2 separate regions of the Homo sapiens genome follow, and region 2 is linked to region 1. Evidence: fine-mapped expression QTL. A gene starts in region 1. The other region holds a variant in brackets. All regions are shown on one strand. Distances are between the middles of the regions.

Evidence for each region. PIP is the estimated chance that this variant, and not a neighbour inherited with it, causes the effect.
Region 2: its variant is the best candidate, but not a certain one, in a credible set for the expression of SLC6A4 in blood mononuclear cells (TOPMed, PIP 0.64).

Annotation. Positions count from the first base shown.
Region 1 is chr17:30,233,144-30,237,523 of GRCh38, reverse strand. It overlaps SLC6A4 (solute carrier family 6 member 4), which reads left to right and starts at 1,827. Exons shown (of 15, transcript NM_001045.6): 1 at 1,827-1,911. It overlaps LOC105371720 (a long non-coding RNA gene), which reads right to left and starts at 26. Exons shown (of 3, transcript XR_007065698.1): 1 at 1-26. RefSeq lists cis regulatory regions at 191-233, 17-258, 361-380, 249-419, 647-686 and 2 more, a silencer at 1,411-1,593 and promoters at 1,094-1,848, 3-1,848, 29-1,853, 1,749-2,043, 259-2,043 and 1 more.
Region 2 is chr17:30,208,963-30,213,342 of GRCh38, reverse strand. It overlaps SLC6A4 (solute carrier family 6 member 4), which reads left to right. Exons shown (of 15, transcript NM_001045.6): 9 at 476-603; 10 at 1,919-2,031; 11 at 2,697-2,828; 12 at 4,101-4,200. Among named protein-coding and RNA genes, the nearest start is that of SLC6A4, 25 kb to the left of the region's middle. RefSeq lists an enhancer at 222-681. The variant C/T (reference allele first, on the strand shown) is at 1,886.

The DNA of each region.
Region 1 (4,380 bases):
CCCAAGCTTGTTGGGGATTCTCCCGCCTGGCGTTGCCGCTCTGAATGCCAGCACCTAACCCCTAATGTCCCTACTGCAGCCCTCCCAGCATCCCCCCTGCAACCTCCCAGCAACTCCCTGTACCCCTCCTAGGATCGCTCCTGCATCCCCCATTATCCCCCCCTTCACCCCTCGCGGCATCCCCCCTGCACCCCCAGCATCCCCCCTGCAGCCCCCCCAGCATCTCCCCTGCACCCCCAGCATCCCCCCTGCAGCCCTTCCAGCATCCCCCTGCACCTCTCCCAGGATCTCCCCTGCAACCCCCATTATCCCCCCTGCACCCCTCGCAGTATCCCCCCTGCACCCCCCAGCATCCCCCCATGCACCCCCGGCATCCCCCCTGCACCCCTCCAGCATTCTCCTTGCACCCTACCAGTATTCCCCCGCATCCCGGCCTCCAAGCCTCCCGCCCACCTTGCGGTCCCCGCCCTGGCGTCTAGGTGGCACCAGAATCCCGCGCGGACTCCACCCGCTGGGAGCTGCCCTCGCTTGCCCGTGGTTGTCCAGCTCAGTCCCTCTAGACGCTCAGCCCAACCGGCCGCACAGTTTTCAGGGGTCAGTTCCTCCAAGTACAAGGGGCGGTGGCTTCTCTGGAGCTGCAAACTTGTCACTGCTATTTCCTTTCGGTCTTCTACTTCCTATCGTTCCTGGCCTCCTCTTGGGGAGAGGTAGAGCCCTCTCCTTTCCGCCTCAGGGACAACCCAAAGCAAGTACTGCATGTGCCCTTTTTAAAGTTTTAAATAATTTTAGCAAAAAGGATATTAACATTAAATCAATTTTTAAACTTTTTGAAAAAATTATCAAAACTACATGCACATGGTTCAAAACAATAGGCTCCTGCTGGGCCCTTTCAGATAATTCAAATTGTCACCAGGTTGGAGTGCAGTGGTTCGATCACGGCTCACTGCAGCCTCGACCTCCCGGGCTCAGCTGATCCTCCACCTCAGCCTCCTGAGTAGCTGGGAACACAAGCGCGAGCAACCACGCCCGGCTAATTAAAAAAATTTTTTTTCTAGAGATGGGGTCTTGCTGTGTTGCCCAGGCTGGTCTTGAATTCCTGGGCTCAAGCAATCCTCCCGCCTCAGCCTCCCAAAGCACTGTGCTCCTTTTTGACGCAGCTTTGAACTGTAGCTGGTTAACAAAATGAGAACCAGTTCTTCATTCCTTCATTGTGGAAGTCTTTATTGTGAGACTCTGGGGACGGAGAGGAATTAGACAAGGGCCTCTAAGCTGAGCTCACATCCCAGCCGGTCAGTCAGATAAACGCATGGGTATCGAGTACTGCTAGGTCCCAGGAAGAAAGAGAGAGCAGCTTTCGGGATGGGGACGATGGGGAGGTGTCCGAGGTCAAGAGAAAGCGGCACGAGCAGACCCCTGTGTGCCGTCCTGTGGGCGCGGGGCGGCAGGGGAGGCGCACACCTGCTCCTTTGTGCAGCCTCCCCCCTCCCGCAAAGTTAAAGAGCAGGAAAGTCAGGATTCCTCGCTCGGCCCTGCCCTGCCGGCTGCTCCGCGCTCCGCTCCTCCCTGCGAGCGTGTGTGTGTGTCGGGGGTCCCTCCCCTCCTGGCTCTGGGGTCGGGCGCGCACCCCGCCCCGTAGCGCGGCCCCTCCCTGGCGAGCGCAACCCCATCCAGCGGGAGCGCGGAGCCGCGGCCGCGGGGAAGCATTAAGTTTATTCGCCTCAAAGTGACGCAAAAATTCTTCAAGAGCTCTTTGGCGGCGGCTATCTAGAGATCAGACCATGTGAGGGCCCGCGGGTACAAATACGGCCGCGCCGGCGCCCCTCCGCACAGCCAGCGCCGCCGGGTGCCTCGAGGGCGCGAGGCCAGCCCGCCTGCCCAGCCCGGGACCAGCCTCCCCGCGCAGCCTGGCAGGTGGGTCCGCTTTTCCTCTCCGCCTCGAACCCACGTTTCTTTCCAGACCTTCTTCCCCGCCTCGGGGAGGGGGATAGAACCGCTGCGCCCCACCGCCCTGCGAGGAGGCGAGGAGGTGCATGCGCCCCAGCGGTGGGCGCCGGATCCTGCCCCTGCGCCCTCCACGCTCAGCAAGAGCCAGAGCTGAAGCTGACCGGCCAGAGTGGGAGACGAGGAACGTGGAGTGCTCGAAGTGGGCGGGCGTAGGGGGCTCCTTTGTCTATTGTTGCAGGGGCTTTGCAACCTCTTGAGGACCCGTGAAAGACCCCTTAAAGAGGGTCTTGAGCAAAGTGCTGTCCTGCGCTTTGGGAAGAGTTGCTTGCTTTCGTTTCAACCCATGGTTTATGTTTGATCTTTACTTTGCTGTCATCGCGTGCAGGTGGCTTTATGCAAAGGGAGAGTTCTGGTTGACACAAATGCCCAGACAGCTAGAGAAATCTCTGAGTGGCGCCTAAGTGGGCCGAGTCTCCGTGCGCTTGGGTGGTTTCACTGTCAGAGCTGAGGCGCTCTCAGACACCTCACAGGCCATTCAGAATGTATGTGAAACTCCAACTCCAACGACTGTGCTACGTGGTTGAAGGATATAACCATCATTTGCTTGAAAATTGTGTACATTCAAACTTGTTCTTGAAAAAAAGCTCTCTGGAGCTCAAGAGTGGATTTGGGTCTTGGGCTAAGGAGCAGATTTTCTTCTGAACTGGGGCTTTTGCATATTGAATTGTTCCTTTTCCATTTGGGACTCTGAAGAATTTGAGAGGGGTAGAATTTCTGAATCAGACATTACAAAGACTTTGTGTATGTATTTTTACCATCAGTTTTGTCCAGAAAAGTGAACCTGGTCAATGGATTATTTATGAGCCTGCTAGCTAACTCTCATCATAGGAAGACGAGAGCAAATATTTAATGTGTTTTGCCTTCAGTTACATAGGAAAAATGTCTAAGAAGGTGACATTGGGACTTGTGTTTAATGAAACAGAGAACTGTGGGCAGCGTCAGTGTTGGGTTTTTAGGAGCGTAGGGAGCACACAGCTTTGACTCTTTGTCCCATTACTTGCTTCTGTGTGAAGCCACTGAGGCCCCAGGGTTCGGGTTTTCCTGCCACGCACTCTGGGGTGGCAGTGACCGTTCCAATATGGATGAGTGAGAAGCAGGTTCTTATGAGGTTTGTGCAAATTGAGCAAGCCACTTGGGGCATGGGTTTTTCCTCTTTTCTTTCTTTCTTTCTTTTTCCCACTAAAGAACAGATTGAAAGTGCTTCACAATTAATCAAAAGTCCCCTCAACACTCTGGTGATCCATCTAAGACCTCTCAGAGATATAACCACCAGCACAGATATTCAAACCCATTTTTTTCAATCTCCTTGTTTAAGAAATATATATATACTAGGAGTGGGATGGGGGAATAATGTTGATGTTTTAATGGAATCTGAAAGACCTCAGAAATTCCTCTCGGGGGATGTTTAGAGTCGTCTGAGCATTTTGATGAAACTTGGAGAGGCATGTTGAAGAGTTTCGCAAATAGGTGAGGTGCCTGAGGAATGGGGATGCTTGGCTGGAGGGGGGTTAGGAGCATGGATCAGTCTGTTTCTTACAGCAGGTGCTTGCTTCCCAAACACCCTGGATGTCCGCTGCCAAACAGAAACACAGGTAACTCCAGACATTAAGCCAATACGTGGCAGCTCCTTCTCCTTCCTAGTTGTGGAATGAATGGTATAATTGGAGAGAATATAGAAGGCAGGGCTTCCTGAAGAAGCTTAATTTTAATTTGGCTTCATGAATCAACAGGATATGGTCATGACTTGACTTTTTCTAAAGATGTCTGGACAGCCAGAGCAAAAATTATACAGTCACTTTTGGTTGTTGTTGAGAAGGTAACTCAGACCTTAGTTATTCCCAGTAACATATCAGCTCCTCGTGGTCCTCAGCTCTAAATGAGGGGCTGTGGAGAGGACTGCCTAACACGATGTCCGAGTCCCCTCCAACTCACTCTGCAACCATGACCCTAACCTCTCCACTTTAAGAAAACATGAGTTGAAATGATGGTGCAAAAATGCCGGAGGGCCGGTACTCTCTACCCAGATATCACCTTCAAATCAGGGTCTCCTGGGGATCCCCTCAGGTTTCACTCTAAGGCAGAGGCTTTGCACACTCTGACACATGTAAGTAAGTTAACCCCTGCACCTTAACCACAGCCAACCAACAGGGGCCCAATAACCCGACTCCCCAGCTGCCCAAATGCCCTTTGCAAGATGCCCAGGGTGTGGTGCGGTAGAAATAGCCCCCAGGCAGCACAAATTTGGGCTGCACCGATTTTCCTGTCCAGTCCCTGGGCTATTAACAGCCACCTCCACTCCCTGATGTTTGCGGTGTTCCATGGAACATACGTGGGTGTGGAGCGAAACATCTCATAAAAGCGCCTGTTTCTCCACAC
Region 2 (4,380 bases), 24 kb after region 1:
CAATAGAGCAAGGCTCTGTCTCAAAAAAAAAAAAAAAAAAGAAAAAAAAATGAGGGTATCTCTCTGGCTGGCAGTCTGTGACTTAGTTTGAAGATAAAGCCTAAATCTGAGGATCTCACAAATGTGAGGCTCAGGCCCTGTCCTGGCCCCCACTCCAACCTGGGCCCTGCTCCAGAACAAGGCTGGTTTGAAATGGAGAGGTCTGTGCTAGCAGGATTGCCTTTTAAAGCACCCCTGACTGCTCTTCTCCCTCCACCATGTGTGGTGGTCATGGCAGTCAGAGCTTCAGGCCTCGGCAGCTGGGTTCTGGGAGAAGGCGAAGGGACTCCGGGACAGGCTTGAGGTTCCTTGAGTTCAGCCTGCTTGTCCTTGCTGTGGCCGCCCTGTCTAAGGCAGGGCAGGCACACGGACAGATGCTCCTTAGACCCCTGATCTTGGAACTGTCTCAGGCGGCCCCTTGGGTTTTCCCCTCCAGAGATGCCCTGGTGACCAGCGTGGTGAACTGCATGACGAGCTTCGTTTCGGGATTTGTCATCTTCACAGTGCTCGGTTACATGGCTGAGATGAGGAATGAAGATGTGTCTGAGGTGGCCAAAGACGCAGGTAGGACCTCGGGTTCTATGCAGGTCCCTTGCTCCTACTGAGTTGCTTTGCTTTGAATCTTTGTAAAGATCTAACTTTTGATTTATTTCTAAATGTTCCTGAAATTTTCCAAAGAAGGCTGGGCATGGTGGAGTTCAAGACCAGCCTGGGCAACATAGTGAGACCCTGCCTCTATAAAAAAATAAATGAGCTGGGCATGGTAGTGCACACCTATAGTCCCAGCTACTCAGGAGGCTGAGGTGGGAAGATTGCTTGAGCCTGGGAGGTCAAGGCTACAGTGAGCCATGATCACACCACTGTACTTCAGCCTGGGTGACAGAATAAGACCCTGTTTCCAAAACATTTTTTATTCAAAGATTTGAGAGAAGCTCGATGCCTTAGAGATCTTTCCATGTGTTCAGGCCATGCAGGGACAGGGCAACTCCCTTGGCACCCAGTTCTGGGGCCTCCAAAATCTATGGGCTTGAAATGATGACTCTGATGATGGCTTTAAAACCAGTGGGTTTGCTTCCTGTGATGGTCTTGTGATGGCTCAAAGTCTAGTAAGCAAATATCATTTATCCTTAGAACTGCCCCTTGCAGAAAAAGAAAATCTAGCCAATATGACCACTCTATTTTACCGTGAAGTTTTTGTGGAAAAAGAAAAGAGCAACAGAGGGAGAAAAAACAGATGATGGCATCTAGTGGGCGAGGTCCCAGGGCCTTCTTGTTACAAGCATGTTAGCATGCTTGTATCTTTGGCCTGATTCGGTGCTTTGACCAACCCCATACCCCAAACGAGGGCACCCCTAGCTAACCCATGAGAGGCTGAAGACATGTCCCTCACACTTTCAAAAGGGACTTTAAAATAGAAAGAGGTCTTTATTCCAAAGCCTCTGTGACTCTACGGAAATCAATTTAACATTTCCTACTGTTCTGAAGCTGAAGACATCAGAGGGGGCTAACTGTCATGGACTTTAGAAATATCAATCCTGGTCCTGAGAAATCCCATGGAATTGTTATATGGTGGAAACTCTTATTCTCATGTGCAGCTTTGCCAGTCTCTGGGTCTTGGATCTGTTACCCACCCCCAGGGTTAATGGAGGGCACACAGTTTTCAAGATGGAAGCCCCACCCTTCCTGCCTCCCAGGAACTGGGGTGGCCACGTCAGACGGAGTAGAGTGTGAGGACGCACTTGGTGTGTGTCAAAACCTGATTCACACATAAGGTCTTGTGATGAGAATTGTAACTGTTGTTGTGGCTGAGTTTTCCTCTGTGACATCTTTGTAGGACAGGTCTTGT[C/T]AACCACCTCCTCCTCTCTCCCCTCTGTCTCAGGTCCCAGCCTCCTCTTCATCACGTATGCAGAAGCGATAGCCAACATGCCAGCGTCCACTTTCTTTGCCATCATCTTCTTTCTGATGTTAATCACGCTGGGCTTGGACAGCACGGTGAGGAAATGGGAAGGGGAAATGGGCTGTGGGAGGATGAAGAGGAAAGGAGGAGGACTCAGCTGGACTCAATTCCCTCCCATCCCTGGCCATCCCAGGCAGCTTTGGCTACTCCCTTCTGGTGCTCCAGACCCCCGGCTGACTCCTCGGCATTTACCACCCTCTGGTACATTCGAGTCATTAATGGGATAAAGTGGGTCAAGCGCCAGGCGCTTATGAGGCCCAAGGCTCACATATGTGAACTGTTATTAAGCACTGTCCCTTGGCCCAATTATGGCGCCTACAGGCCGGGGCGAGGTCTCTCCTGGGTCTCTGCTTTGCCAAGGGTTCAGTTCAGGGCCTGGAATTATTAGTGTGGAGTGAGTCTCAGCTTTGAGTTGGCCTTTCTGGTGCAAACGGAGTCTCCCCGAGAGACCTCATATATTGAAGTTCTGTCCACGTGTGCTATTTTGTTTCCTGGCTCTCCTTAGTGATGGGCTTTAAATGACAGTGTAAAACAGGGAAATACTCTTTGAGATGCTTACATGGTCCAGCGAGCCGGGGAACTGGTGATGATCAGCTTGACCAGTCACTTAGCAACCTTACCCCTCCCTCCTGTTCACTGTCCTGAAGGCCACAGCCTTGTCCCAAAGCCTCCACCGTGACTGCTTGCCTGTACCTCTCAGTTTGCAGGCTTGGAGGGGGTGATCACGGCTGTGCTGGATGAGTTCCCACACGTCTGGGCCAAGCGCCGGGAGCGGTTCGTGCTCGCCGTGGTCATCACCTGCTTCTTTGGATCCCTGGTCACCCTGACTTTTGTGAGTATCATGCCCCTCAGCTTTGAGTTGGCCTCCCCTAGGGCAGCAGAACGCTACAGGAAGCTGTTCGTCTCCTTCCATCTCACACAGTGCCCTGGCTTTGGGACCAAAGGAGGGGAGGTTGTTACTCCCATTAAAAGGTTTGTCATCAAGGAGAAGAAAAGTTGTTTCTTGTGCATCTACTTGCAGATTCCGTGCATAGTATCCAGGGGCTGTCAGCATTTTACCGCAGATCCCACTAGATTTCAGGCTTCAAAAACTATCTGGAGAAAATTAGGATTTGCTTTTCCAGCCTATTTCCACTCTTTAGAGCTGCTTTCTTGAGGATACTGCCCTGACGTTCTTCACGTCATGTGTGTAATGCCGCTTGGTCTCCTCCAGAATTTGCAATGGTAAAGAAGTCACACCCTCTCTAGAGATCCTTTTTTTTTTTTTTTGGTAGCTGAAGTAAATACTCTAAGGCAGATTTTGCAAATGTGCATCTTTAAGCCGTGACCCCGATGGCCCTGGAGTGGGGGTCAAGGGGACTGAGTGGAACCCCAGTGAGTCATGATTTAGGACAGAAAGGCAAAACTGTGACCAAGGCCCTTAATGTGTCTGGTATCCTGGGCCCTTCTGGATTCAGTCTTTAGAGGCAGGGATTCTCCAGGGTCGTGTCCACAGCAGGTGTTCAATAAGTTGAAGAAAGTTTAAAATAGATCCCAAGGCCCTTTGGAGTTTGTCTCTTAAAATTTAGTGGGGTGAAGAAATGAGAAGAATGAACTACATAGGATGGGAAGAGGCGTCTGAGTGGGTAAAACCTGCCCACACTGCCACTGCAAAGGCCAGTCCAAGAACAGTCCAAGAAACAGTTTCTTTTTTTTTTTTTTTTGGACAGAGTCTTGCTCTGTCCCCCAGGCTGGAGTGCAATGGTGCTATCTCAGCTCACTGCAACCTCTGCCTCTCGTTCAAGCAATTCTCCCGCCTCAGCCTCCTGAGTAGCTGGGATTAAAGGCGTGTGCCACCACGCCTGGCTAATTTTCACCATATTGGCCAGGCTGGTCTCAAACTCCTGACCTCAGGTGATACGCCCGCCTCAGCCTCCCAAAGTGCTGGGATGACAGGCATGAGCCACCGCACCTGGCCTAAGAGGCAGTTTCTGGGGTACTCACGTTCGGTCCCAGGTGGGATTTTTCCAGAATGATTCTAAGTGAGGAAGCCCCTGCAGGTCTCTGTAGTTGGGAGGGGTGGCTCCTTGGAGGGCCCTCACCCAGGCTCTGCTCTCCCCTCCAGGGAGGGGCCTACGTGGTGAAGCTGCTGGAGGAGTATGCCACGGGGCCCGCAGTGCTCACTGTCGCGCTGATCGAAGCAGTCGCTGTGTCTTGGTTCTATGGTAAGACGCTTCCTTCAGCCAGCTGGGTCCCTTCTACACCATCAGCCAGCACAGTAGCAAAGGGCTGATTTCACCAAAAAAGGCTGTGAGGGGCAGTTTACAAGATGTGACCTCCCGATGATGGGTCTGTAAAAGAGTCTCGGCCAGGCGCGGTGGCTCACGCCTGTAATCCCAGCATTT